2 separate regions of the Homo sapiens genome follow, and region 2 is linked to region 1. Evidence: fine-mapped expression QTL. Tissue or cell type: blood mononuclear cells. Region 1 holds a variant in brackets; the other region holds the start of a gene. All regions are shown on one strand. Distances are between the middles of the regions.

Region 1 (2,500 bases):
ATTTCTTCTAAAAATACAAAAATTAGCCGGGCATGGTGGCACATGCCTGTAATCTCAGCTCCTCAGGAGGCTGAGGCAGGAGAATTGCTTGAACCCGGAAGGTGGAGGGTGCAGTGAGCCAAGATCGCACCACTGCACTCCAGCCTAGGTGACAGAGTGAGACTCTGCCTCACACACACACACAAAATTAGGTACTATTCTGGGTCTTGTTTTTATAGATGGAATAGTCAAGGCTCAGATTAACTAATAACTCACCCAAGATCCCCCAGCCAGGAAGAAGGACCTGGTTCTAGTGCCTATGTTGTTAACCTGCCCATCAAACAGACCTGTTGGGACCTCATGAGGCCAGACACTAACCCCCTGTCCTCAGCTAGACATGGCGATAGAGTTCCCATTGTCTGGATGGCAGAATCTTCCCATCACTGCAGTGGTTCAAGACATCCAGGCTCTTTGTTTGGCGGGACAGCCAGCCTGCTCTATTCTCAGGGGAAGGGCTTTGAGAATGGCTTATTTAGCTCACTCCCCAAGAAGCTTATCACCCCAACCCCACCCCTGCCCAACAAACACATTCCCATCAGGAAAGCTGGACGACCCTGCCTTCCATGGAATGGAAGCTATGATCCCATCCATTCAGTTCAGCCTCTCATAAACGCTCTGTTCCAAACATAACCAGAATAGTCAGGGAGTCCTCGAAACCCAGACATGACTTATTTTCTATTTCTAGCTTAACCACGTGATGCCTGTGAGTTTCAAGCACTGGAGCATCCCCATTCACGCTGGAACCATCTCATCTAGAAAGGGGAGGGTGTACAAGCAGCTCTGGATCAGCCCACTGGGGTTCAGAACAAGCAAAAGAATTTCTTTACCTCCCCTGAGTTTCAGCCTCAAAGAGCAGCAAAGAACCTGGAGCCCATTAAATCCAGCTGTGCTCATTGTACAAAGGGAAGAACTGAGGCTTTGGAGGACAAAGAAGATACCCAGATGATCTGCATTGCTCTTTTTCTCCCTTGCTTCTTTCTCTCTTGTTGAATTGGAATAGGTCAAACCTGTCTACAGTACTCAAATGTCACGGGGGTTTCCTCCACTAGGCATGGGGCAGAGCTTATTCTCAATAAATGTTCGAGAATGAAACGTCAGCAATTAACTAGCAGGCAACTTTGGAGAGGATTTCACTTCCCCTATAATTAAACACAACAAATGGCACGAATGTTGAAGGGACAATATGCATGGGTGTGTGTGA[GAA/G]AGAGGAAGAGACTGCAGTTCCCATACCAAATAGGTATTTATTTGTTCCAAGACTTTTTTTTTTCACCAAAAAATGCTTTAATATAATCACCTTTTAAATAATATACACTGTCATCTTGATTATGTCTATTGGGCTTACTCAAAGAGGCCAGGACCTTGCAGAGAAATGAGCCTGAGGTTTCCTTCTGCCAGGTCACCAGTCAATGGATATTTCCCAAAAGGTGGATCTTTTAATATATGACTGCATAATTTAACCTAAAATCCTAGTTAGTATTCTAGCAAGATGTCTCCTTCTAATTGAGGTAATTTCTAGGAATATGTTGCTAAAAGTTTCCTTTTCTTCAAATAAAGCAATAACTGCCATTTATGAAGCACGTATTAGGTGCCAGGTACTTCACTGGCCTTAACTCTTTGTAACTCATGTTTTCACCGTCACGACAACACTGTAAGGCAAATTACGACCAGTTCACAGCCAGGAAAACTGAGACTGAGGCAGAAAAGTAACTGGCCCAGTGCTGCAGAACCAGTAAGAGGCTGAGCTGGGGTTAGAACCTAGGAATGACTCTCAAGTCCAAGCTCTTTATACTGTATTCTCCTAAGCTCAGATTAAAACCCACTCCATCCCCTACTTTCTTAGTATTTCTTCATAGACAGAATATTTCAAGGAATTTAACTTTTACCACAAGGGATACAAAACAAGGAATGAGAGGACCTGTCTTACCTCCGCTTTATCACAACCACTTTGCAAAGTTACTGAGATTCAACAGCTTTGTCTGCTAAATGGGCACATAGCCCTTCAACCACTCCTTTGCTTTGCTGCCAGAAACAAAGGAAAAGGCAGGAAAAAAGTGCATATTTCTTCCAGAATTGTCAGAGGCCAGCAGATCTTCCTGCAGGATGTCAGCCTAAGCAATCTTTCAAATGCTCCCCGGGCAGGCAGCCCAACCCACCACACTCCGCTCCAAGGAGACACCTCCTAAAATAAACCCTGCTAACTTCAGTTAGCTCACCCTAAAGACTATATATAGAAGAAAAGACTCAGGAGTTCCCATTTGGCAGCAGCTTCTCCAAAACTCAGCGCAAATGGCTGATTTCTAACTTAATCTCCAACATCTGACAGGCGGCTTTAAATCAGGGAGGCCGACTAAGAGATGGAAAACCTCTGTGAGGCCAGCCCAGCCTGCCTGGGGGCAGAGACACCCCAGGGCTTTTCAGCAAACTGGAATGGCATGAAAATGGGAACCTGGCCCCCGGAGGA
Region 2 (3,015 bases), 93 kb after region 1:
GTAAGACCAGACACCCCGGACTGAGTATTGATTCAGGGGCATGGTCGGGGACTTGGGACGCCCAGCTCAGCCCTCATCGCAGGCCAGGACGAACAGAGGGCTCAACTGTCTGCACCCAGCTCGGCAAAAACCAGAGAGATGCTGCTGCGACAACCGCCCAGGAACAGCGGCTGAGGATCCGGGGAGATCCACTCACTCAGGCAGGGAGCGAGTCACCAAGACCTACACGCACGGAGCAAGTCACCTGGGGTCCCCAGCAAGAGTGATGGGGAACAGGAACCCAGCCAGGCTCCGGTAACCCCCAAAGCGCCCCCGCTGGAGAAAACTTCCCCCAGACCCCAAGGGGTCCGTGCTCAGACTCTGAAAGGGGCAGCCCACGACCCCTGAGCCTTGGCAGGGACCCCACCCGGCTTCCCGGGGCAAGAGGCGATGTGGAGTCGGTAGGCTTGCAGAGTCCCAGTCTGATGACCGAGTTCAAGGGCTAGGGGGGCGTGGGGTCGGGCTGCCTTCCTCCCTCCCTCGCCGCGGGGCGCGAGCCGAAAGGGCATCTTACCAGAGCCCGGGCGGGCAGTGCCCCCCGGCTGGCCGGCTGCTGTCCCCGCGGTTCTCCGGGGCCGCCTCCCCGCGCCCGCGCCTGGGGCCCCCGTCCTCCTCCTCCTCCGCCGCCGCCTCCTCCTCCTCCTCGGGCTGCAGCCGGCTCGGCGGGCAGGTCCCGGCGCTCCCGGCGCGGGGCCGGGGCCGGGGGCGGCTGCTCCCCGCCGCCGACCGCTGCGCCCCCGCGGCGCTCCCCGGCCCCGGAGTCGAGGCTGCTGAAATTCCACACGACCAGCGTCTGCAGCAGCAGCACCGTGAGCGCCGCGAGCAGCGCCGAGTGCGAGCGCCGGGCCAGCCTCCGGGCGCACGGCGCCGCCACCATCTTCGGAGCGCGGCCGGCGAGCGAGGCGCGGGGACCCCGGCACGCTCCGGGCCGCCCCCGCGCTCCCCGCAGCTCCCGCGGCCGCCGGCTGCCGCTCGGGCTCCCGCTCGGGCCGCCGCCGCCGCCCCCCTCCCCACACCCCTGTCCCCGCTGGAGGGGAGGGTGATGGGGAAGGCGCCGGGGGGACGCGGGCCGAGGCGGAGAGGGCGGGGCCTGGGGGAGGAGCCGAGGGAGGAAAAGGAGGAGGGAAAGGAAGGGGGTGGGGGCGATCAGAGAAGACAGACACCCCTCAGGACGTAGTGGGAGTAGGATGGGGGGCGAGGGGGACAATTCCCAAGGCGGAAAAAGAGAGGCAGGGGCCGCGAAACAGGGGACCTTTGGTTGAGGGTGGGCCCGCTCAGAATCCAGGGGAGGTCAGGAAGAGAGGGGGTCCCGAGGTCCTGTTTTCCCTGTGGGCCGCTGGAAGGAGGCAGTGCGTGGAGGAAGCTCCTAGCCCCGGAGTTCGCGGTCCAGGGATCTTCTGTCGGTACCAGACCGGTTGGCAGGTGGACACGTGAGAAACATTTCAGGAGTGTCAGAGCCACAGTCTGATCCCTTCATCCTGGGCTTGAAGGGGTGGGGAGGAGGCTTTGGGTGAGTTTCTGGAGTTAATCAGCACAAGCTCTGTGAGTGACTCCTGAATCACACACAATCCCCGGTGCCAACGATGTACTAAGTGTTCACTGAGTCACTTCTCTGGTCCCTGAGGACTCACAAGCCAAGAGACTCCAAACCCAGTTGGCAAGTGGTATAGCGGCAAAAGGGAGACCCGTGGAGTTACTCAACCTTCGCAGGATGCAAGCCCCAAAGGCTGGCCCCGCAGCCTCCCAGCGTGTCCTTTTCCCCATCCATCCTGAAGTCCCCCTTCCTGTCTGCACAGGGCCCAGGTCCTGGGGAAACAGGTCTTGCTCTTGAAAGTGGAGTTCTTTCCCATCCTGACTGGTCTGTCCCGGTGACCTTGAGCCAGGAGGAGGAGGACTCCTCCCTGAGCCCAAGCTTTCTCCTCTGTCGTTTAGGCAGAATGATCCCAATGGACTCAAATTTCATCCCGAGCCTTCTCTGACTCAGTCTTTCTGGTTTTTCCCTCCCTTGTCCTCTTGCCCAGGGCTTTATACACAGCAGCGCAGAACAGTGAGCATATGGGATGGCGTTGGTGTCCCATACGGGACCTAGCACTCTGGGAATACAACAGCAGATCAAATCAGTTTGTGAATTGAGGACTTGGCGTGAATGCTTCGCATCTTGTCTGCTGTGCTTTTTCACCTCATCCTAATTTACAAAGAGAAGAAAGTGGAGTGTAATGAAGGCTCATCAGACAATGAGGCAGGGAGTGGGAAGAGATTGTTTCATCCACTCCACAAGCATCCGTGAATACAAAGCTTGTGTCAGACACTGGGCCAGGTGCACGCATCCAAAGGTGAATGAGGTTTAATCTCATCTTCAGCAAGCCTGAGGTCTAGAGAAGCCTGATGTGGATGTTAATCATTAAAATATAGTGAGATAGGCCTGGGCGCGGTGGCTCATGCCTGTAATCGCAGCACTTTGGGAGGCCAAGACAGGAGGATCACCTGAGGTCAGAAGTTCGAGATCAGCCTTGCCAACATGGTGAAACCCCGTCTCTACTAAAAATACAAAAATTAGCCGGGCATGGTGGCACACACCCCTGATCCCAGCTACTCAGGAGGCTGAGGCAGGAGAATCTCTTGAACCCAGGAGGCAGAGGCTGCAGTGAGCCGAGATCACACCACTGCACTCCAGCCTGGGTTACAGAGCAAGACTCCATCTAAAAAACGTATATATAAATATATATATATTGTATATATATATATTATATATAATGTATATAATAAATATATTATATATAATATATTTATATATATGTACATATAATATATATAATATATAATATATAACATATATATAATATATATATTTATATGTAAATATATATAATATTATATATATATATATGGTGAGATAAGCATTGCTGTAGAGATGTGCAAAAATGCTAAGGGTTCATGAGGGCAGGACGGGAGTAAGCGCCAAGAAAAAATGCTTTC

Evidence for each region.
Region 2: XYLT1 starts here. The variant in region 1 is fine-mapped to the expression of XYLT1 in blood mononuclear cells (TOPMed, PIP above 0.99). The same link has a PIP of 0.9 or more in whole blood.

What each region holds. Positions count from the first base shown.
Region 1 is chr16:17,377,006-17,379,505 of GRCh38, forward strand. All of the region lies in intron 1 of XYLT1 (xylosyltransferase 1), which reads right to left. Among named protein-coding and RNA genes, the nearest start is that of XYLT1, 93 kb to the right of the region's middle. The variant GAA/G (reference allele first, on the strand shown) is at 1,241.
Region 2 is chr16:17,469,881-17,472,895 of GRCh38, forward strand. XYLT1 (xylosyltransferase 1) reads right to left here and starts at 1,080. Exons shown (of 12, transcript NM_022166.4): 1 at 554-1,080. The coding sequence starts at 916. It overlaps LOC107987234 (a long non-coding RNA gene), which reads right to left and starts at 547. Exons shown (of 2, transcript XR_001752091.2): 1 at 1-547. It overlaps LOC105371106 (a long non-coding RNA gene), which reads right to left. Exons shown (of 3, transcript XR_933144.3): 3 at 1,127-2,224. RefSeq lists enhancers at 1-129, 250-299, 1,074-1,575.